2 linked regions of the Homo sapiens genome follow. The protein of the gene in region 2 purifies or fractionates together with the protein of the main gene of each other region. This does not show direct contact. Each region holds a gene or a part of one and is shown on either strand. Other genes may lie near its edges.

Evidence for each region. The genes of interacting proteins can lie anywhere in the genome.
Region 1: the proteins of ZNF131 (region 2) and GNB3 purify together in Homo sapiens (affinity purification with mass spectrometry; 2 studies listed by BioGRID and IntAct, with this or other methods). This does not show direct contact.

Annotation. Positions count from the first base shown.
Region 1 is NC_000012.12:6,843,773-6,847,524, forward strand, and holds the end of GNB3 (guanine nucleotide-binding protein G(I)/G(S)/G(T) subunit beta-3), read left to right. Parts: intron 1-4; coding exon 5-206; intron 207-1,025; exon of another isoform or gene 1,026-1,813; coding exon 1,814-2,030; coding exon of another isoform or gene 2,031-2,197; exon of another isoform or gene 2,198-3,015; coding exon of another isoform or gene 3,016-3,019; coding exon 3,020-3,126; coding exon of another isoform or gene 3,127-3,131; 3' UTR 3,132-3,621; downstream 3,622-3,752. UniProt on the Homo sapiens protein: Guanine nucleotide-binding proteins (G proteins) are involved as a modulator or transducer in various transmembrane signaling systems.
Region 2 is NC_000005.10:43,158,776-43,162,427, forward strand, and holds part of ZNF131 (zinc finger protein 131), read left to right. Parts: intron 1-2,473; coding exon 2,474-3,156; intron 3,157-3,652. UniProt on the Homo sapiens protein: Plays a role during development and organogenesis as well as in the function of the adult central nervous system. May be involved in transcriptional regulation as a repressor of ESR1/ER-alpha signaling.

The DNA of each region.
Region 1 (3,752 bases), on a different chromosome or scaffold from region 2:
GCAGTGCCTTGTGGGACATTGAGACTGGGCAGCAGAAGACTGTATTTGTGGGACACACGGGTGACTGCATGAGCCTGGCTGTGTCTCCTGACTTCAATCTCTTCATTTCGGGGGCCTGTGATGCCAGTGCCAAGCTCTGGGATGTGCGAGAGGGGACCTGCCGTCAGACTTTCACTGGCCACGAGTCGGACATCAACGCCATCTGTGTGAGTGCACCCCCCACCCCAGCTTCACTCCAACTCCTTCCCCGACACTCCCCACAACACATACAATACACATCCTCTGCCCCTCCCATAGCTTCCCTAGCCCTTTCTTACTGTATTTTTTTTTTTTTTTTTTTTTTTTTTGAGACAGAGTCTCACTTTGTCGCCCAGGCTGGAGTGCAGTGGTGCAATCTTGGCTCACTGCAACCTCTGCCTCCTGGGTTGGAGCAATTCTCCTGCTTCAGCCTCCTGAGTAGCTGGGATTACAGGTGTGCGCCACCATGCCCGGCTAATTTTTGTATTTTTAGTAGAGATGGGGTTTTGCCATGTTGGCCAGGCTGGTCTTGAACTCTTGACCTGAGGTGATCCTCCCACCTCAGCTTCCCAGAGTGCAGTGCTGGGATTACAGATGTGAGCCACTGTGCCCAGTCTTCCCTAGCCCTTTCTTTCTTTCCTTTTTTTGGAGACAGAGTCTCACACTGTTGCCCAGTCTGGATGCAGTGGTGCTATCATAGCTCACCGCAGTCTCAACCTCCAGGGTTCAACCAATCCTCCCACCACAGCCTCCTGAGTAGCTGGGACTACAGATGCGTGTGACCACGCTTGGCTAATGTTTTGATTTTTGTGTAGAGATGGGTTCCCACTATGTTGCCCAGGCTGAGCTGGAACTTCTGAGCTCAAGCGATCCTCCTGCCTCAGTCTCCCAAAATATTGGGATTACAGGCATGAGCCACCACGCCTAGCCCATTTTATCACGTTTGCTTTATCATTTTTTCTCTGTAGAGAAATAGCCATAGATACACACACACATACACACTTAGATGTAGATATACATTTTCTTTCTGTGTCTTTTGAAAGTAGGTTGCAGACATCATGTTTCTTTACCCCTTAAGTACTTCCCGAAACAAAGCCCTTCTGTAGCATAATCACTGTATGATTCTTAAGATCAGGAAACTCAACATTGACACAATACTACAGTCTACAGTCTATATTCAAATTTCACCAATAGCCTCAAAAATGTCCATAATAGCTCATGTTTTTTTCTGTCCAGGATCCAATCCAGAAACGTGCATTACCTTTCCTCGCCATATCTTTTTCGTCACCACCTTTAAACTGGAACTGTTTTCCCACCTTTGTCTTTTATGTCATTGACGTTTTTGAAGAGTACAAACCAGTTTTCTGTAGACTCTCCCTCCGTTTGAGCTTATCTGACATTTGCTCGCCGTGAGATCCAGGCCTTGCATTTGTACTGGACCCTGTTCTTACACACCCTGATCCAGCCCACTTGTGTAGTCTGGGAGTCTGGGACAACCTCCGTCCGCCCTTCTAGCCGGGTCACTGCAGGCAAGCCTTGGTGCTCTTGCCTGCGACGTGGAAATGATGCCTGCCTGCAGCGCTGTATAGTGCAGAGCGGGCGAGGGGCATAGGGAAGTCACTGGCACGTGGTATGTGTTGGCAGGGCTGCTTCTCACCCCAAACCAAGGGAGGGACAGGCAGGGAGGCTGAGAGCAGCGGCTTGCCCTGGAGCTGTCAGGTGGGAGGCAGAGGGCGGGAGAGGCTGTGGGCTGCCCAGGTCTGATCCCTGACCCACTTGCCACCCGTGCCCTCAGTTCTTCCCCAATGGAGAGGCCATCTGCACGGGCTCGGATGACGCTTCCTGCCGCTTGTTTGACCTGCGGGCAGACCAGGAGCTGATCTGCTTCTCCCACGAGAGCATCATCTGCGGCATCACGTCCGTGGCCTTCTCCCTCAGTGGCCGCCTACTATTCGCTGGCTACGACGACTTCAACTGCAATGTCTGGGACTCCATGAAGTCTGAGCGTGTGGGTAAGGGCCAGCCCTGGCTGCTGCTTCCTCAGCTGGAAGGACCCTCCCCAGCCCTCCCTCCCCATTCTGTACCCCCCATCAGCTCCCATTTCGGACTCTCTTACTGCTGTCCCTTGTCACTGGGTGACTCCACCCCTGGAATCCAGTACCCCTTGGTTCCCAACTAGGACTGTTTTCCCTCAGTGTTGCTCTAAGCAGCCTCTCTCCACTGCCCAATGCCATGACTGCTCCCTGCCCTAGGAGATCTGTGGACCATGACTGTCCAGTCAGTTCTGGGTTCCTGGCATTTCAGGGGCACCCACTGAGAGGCAAGACAGCCTCAGGGAAACATGGAATCAAGGCAGAATCAAGGAGATCTGGAGTGGCCCGAGGGCCCTGACTGCAGCCTAGGGCTCATCTAAGACTAGCCTGAAGTTGGTCAGATAGGATGGCTTCTTCTCTATCAAGAGGCCAGGTGCTGATGAAAATAACACTGGCCAGGGGCAGAATCCAAATCCTAATTCTGTTGCTCACTTTCTGAGTGTCCTTGCACAAGTCACTCCTCCATGGGCCTCAGTTTCTTCATCTGGAAGCAAAGAAATAGGATGAACGGTTGCCTTCTCTTTTCCAGCACCTGTCAAGGTGCCCTCGGGTTTTTTCATAGTACACAGATGCTTCCAGCCTTTCTCTGTCTGATCCCAGCCCTCCCCCAACCAAAGCTCTTGACAGAGAACCCCCTGCCCTACAGCTAATCCTCTTTCAGTCTCTTAGCCTTCTTCAGGGGTTGAGCCCAGTCTACCGAGTCTAGGATCCCTGCATGCATGTGCTCAAGCACACATGCACACACACACGTACACACACCCACACATGCATACACATGCACACATATCCCCCCACACACCCACATACACACACACACCCACACACCCACACATACACTTACACGCATGCACACACTGCTTTCCAAATCAGCTTGGAGAGACAGGCTGACTCCTTTCCCTCTTCCTCAGGCATCCTCTCTGGCCACGATAACAGGGTGAGCTGCCTGGGAGTCACAGCTGACGGGATGGCTGTGGCCACAGGTTCCTGGGACAGCTTCCTCAAAATCTGGAACTGAGGAGGCTGGAGAAAGGGAAGTGGAAGGCAGTGAACACACTCAGCAGCCCCCTGCCCGACCCCATCTCATTCAGGTGTTCTCTTCTATATTCCGGGTGCCATTCCCACTAAGCTTTCTCCTTTGAGGGCAGTGGGGAGCATGGGACTGTGCCTTTGGGAGGCAGCATCAGGGACACAGGGGCAAAGAACTGCCCCATCTCCTCCCATGGCCTTCCCTCCCCACAGTCCTCACAGCCTCTCCCTTAATGAGCAAGGACAACCTGCCCCTCCCCAGCCCTTTGCAGGCCCAGCAGACTTGAGTCTGAGGCCCCAGGCCCTAGGATTCCTCCCCCAGAGCCACTACCTTTGTCCAGGCCTGGGTGGTATAGGGCGTTTGGCCCTGTGACTATGGCTCTGGCACCACTAGGGTCCTGGCCCTCTTCTTATTCATGCTTTCTCCTTTTTCTACCTTTTTTTCTCTCCTAAGACACCTGCAATAAAGTGTAGCACCCTGGTACATCTGTGATGTTTGCCTTCTACTCTCTTCTGTTCCAAAAAGACCCAGGTCCCATTTAAGGGCAGTAATGTGTTACAGGTGCTGTGATAAAGGCTGGGTACTGGATAGCTTGTGGGCTTATGGGAGGAGGC
Region 2 (3,652 bases):
TGGTTCCTGTGGACTTCCCTCAAATCCGATCAGTTGCTCTGTGATGCCTCATCCTTCCTTTTCCAGAAAGCCTTTTTTTTTTTTCCCAGCATCTTATTCTCAATGCCAAAAAACTGGCAAGAGCTATGAGATTTTACTCTACTTGCAAGCCTACAAGTTTTCCTGCCACAGTGTCATGGATGCTGGAAGAAGATAGAAGACTTCTGAGTCAGAAAGAAAGGACCTTATTACTCTCTACATAGCAAGCAGTATAAATTTCATTTTTATACCAGTTTTCCCTTCCCCTCAAGTCCCACAAGAGTGACATAGAGTGGCCCAGGTGAATGCATAAGATTGATTTATATTATAGCTGAAGAATCTCCAGCTTAGGAATCTCAAAATTTTTATAGTGGGCTACAAACAAACCTGCCTAACGTTTTTTCCAGAGTGGGGGCATTCTCTTTATTATATTGGACAATAAACCTGCCCTTTCATCTACTATACTATACTGCAAACATCCAAACCGAAAGTTTTCAGTTCACAAGATGTGAGGAAACTGAAGAGACTCAAGGAGAATTGTCTCCCAACAGGTGTCGTCTTTTACTGAGTTTACTGAGTTGTGAGAATCCTTTCTTCACTCTAGATATAAGATCTTTAGGCTGGGCACAGTGGCTCTTACCGGTAATTCCAGCACTTTGGGAGGCCGAGGTGGGCAGATCACCTGAGGTCAGTAGTTCAAGACCACCCTGGCCAACATGGTGAGACCCCGTCTCTACTAAAAAATACAAAAATTAGGCGGGCATGGTGGCAGGAGCCTGTAATCCCAGCTACTCAGGAGGCTGAGGCAGGAGAATCACTTGAACCCGGGAGGCAGAGGTTGCAGTGAGCCAAGATCGTGCCACTGCACTCCAGCCTGGGCCACAAGAGAGATACTCTGTCTCAAAAAAAAAAAAAAAAAACCAAACAAAAAATTTGACAGATAAATGTTTGCAACTATTTTCTTCTGGCCTGTGGCTTGCTTTTTTATTAACTGTATTTCAGAGGGCAGTTTTTAATTTTGATGAAATCTATTTTATCAATTTTTGCTGTTATGATTTCTGCCTTTCTTATGCTGTTTAAGAAATCTTTCAGCTGGGCAGGCTGGGCGCGGTGGCCCACGCCTGTAATCCCAGCACTTTGGGGGAGGCCAAGGCGGGCAGATCACAAGGTCAGGAAATCGAGACCATCCTGGCTAACACGGTGAAACCCCATCTCTACTAAAAATACAAAATATTAGCTGGTCGTGGTGGCGGGCGCCTGTAGTCCCAGCTGCTTGGGAGGCTGAGGCAGGAGAATGGCGTGAACCTGGGAGGCGGAGCTTACAGTGAGCCAAGATCACGCCACTGCACTCCAGCCTGGGTGACAGAGCGAGACTCCATCTCAAAAAAACAAAACAAAAAAAAAAACAAAAAAAGAAGAAATCTGTCAGCTGGGCACAGTAGCTCATGTCTGTAATCCTAGTACTCTGGGAGGCCGAGGCAGGAGGATCACTTGAGCCCAGGAGTTCAAGACCACCCTGGGTGACATAGTGAGACCTCGATTCTATCAAAAATAAAATTAGCTGAGTGTGATGGCACGCATCTATAGTCCCAGCTGCTTGAGAGGCTGAGGTGGGAGGATCACTTGAGCCCAAGAGGTTGAAGCCACAGTGAGCCAACATCACACCACTGCACTCCAGCCTGGGTGAGAGAATGAGAAATCTTTCACTAACCAATGTCACTAAGGTCTTCTCCTGTTTTCTTCTAGAAATTTACTAATTCTTAAATTTAGGTCTGTGACCCATTTTGAATTAATTTTTCATGTATGATATGAGGTAAAGGTTGAGGCTTATTTTTCCCATACACATAATTGTTCTAGCATCACTGTTAAATGATTAGCTTGGAACTTTTTTTTTTTTTTTTTTTTTTGAGACAGAGTTTCGCTCTTGTCGCCCAGGCTGGAGTGCAATGGTGCGATCTTGGCTCACCCCAACCTCCGCCTCCTGGGTTCAAGTGATTCTCCTGCCTCAGCCTGCCGAGTAGCTGGGATTACAGGCATGCCACCATGCCCAGCTAATTTTGTATTTTTAGTAGAGACGAGATTTCCCCATGTTAGTCAGGCTGGTCTCAAACTCCCAACCTCAGGTGATCCACCTGCCTTGGCCTCCCAAAGTGTTGCGATTACAGGCATGAGCCACTGCACCTGACTGGCACCTTTTTTTCCCCCATAAAAATCAGTTGACTAAGCGTGGGTCTATTTCCATGGACTTTATTCCATTAATCTTCGTGTCTATGCTTTCACCAGTACTATTGTCTTAATTACTGTAGCTTTAAGTCTTGAAATCAGGTAGGATAAGCCCTGCAGTCTTGTTTTATAACTGTTTATATAAATTTTATTGCCACTTTATCAGTTTCTTCAAAAAAGCCTGGTAGGATCTTCTTATAGATTTTTTAAACCCCTACATTATGTATTTCAGGAACAAAGAAAACTCAGCTCCCTTAGAGGAAAATACCACAGGAAAAAATGAGGCCAAAAAAAGGAAGATTGCAGAAACTTCAAATGTTATCACTGAGTCATTGCCATCTGCAGAATCAGAACCTGTTGAAATTGAGGTAGAGATTGCCGAAGGCACCATTGAAGTGGAAGATGAAGGCATCGAAACATTAGAGGAAGTGGCTTCTGCCAAGCAGTCCGTAAAGTACATACAGAGCACAGGTTCCTCTGATGATTCTGCTCTAGCACTGTTGGCAGATATTACCAGCAAGTACCGTCAAGGTGACAGAAAAGGGCAGATTAAAGAAGATGGCTGTCCATCTGACCCCACGAGCAAACAGGTAGAAGGTATTGAAATTGTGGAACTTCAGCTGTCACATGTGAAGGACTTGTTCCATTGTGAGAAATGTAACCGTTCATTTAAATTGTTTTACCATTTTAAGGAGCACATGAAATCACACTCCACTGAGAGTTTCAAGTGTGAAATATGCAATAAACGATATCTTCGAGAGAGCGCATGGAAACAGCACCTAAATTGTTACCACCTTGAAGAAGGTGGAGTCAGTAAGAAGCAAAGAACTGGGAAAAAAATTCATGTATGTCAGTACTGTGAGAAACAGTTTGACCATTTTGGACATTTTAAAGAACATCTTCGAAAACATACAGGTAATGAGCAAATACTTTGTTAAAATTTTTTTTTCCCACATGCACTTCAAATTTAAGTATCTAAATCCTTTTTAAAAAAATAGTGCCTCAGAAGCCATCTCATGTATTATCTCTAATGTGTAGGCTAAGTACACGTTTTTATAGTATTACCTGTTCAAATATTGGTGCTTTAAATGCAAATCAGTATCAACTTTGGAAGTAATTGTTACTTTTATGCCTTGCCCAATTTTTATATTTTTCAAAGAAATAGAGAAAATAGTTTGTGACTTATTTCCTAAAGATCGTAAATAATTAAATCTTATAGTGAGACTTTACCATTTCTATTTTTACATTTCTTGTGTCGTGTTACTTACAGTACATTTACAAGCAATCCCTGACAGCCAGGCGCGGTGGCTCATGCCTGTAATCCCAGCACTTTGGGAGGCCGAGGCAGGCGGATCACCTGAGGTCAGGTGTTCGAGACCAGCCTGGCCAACATGGTGAAACCTCATCTCTA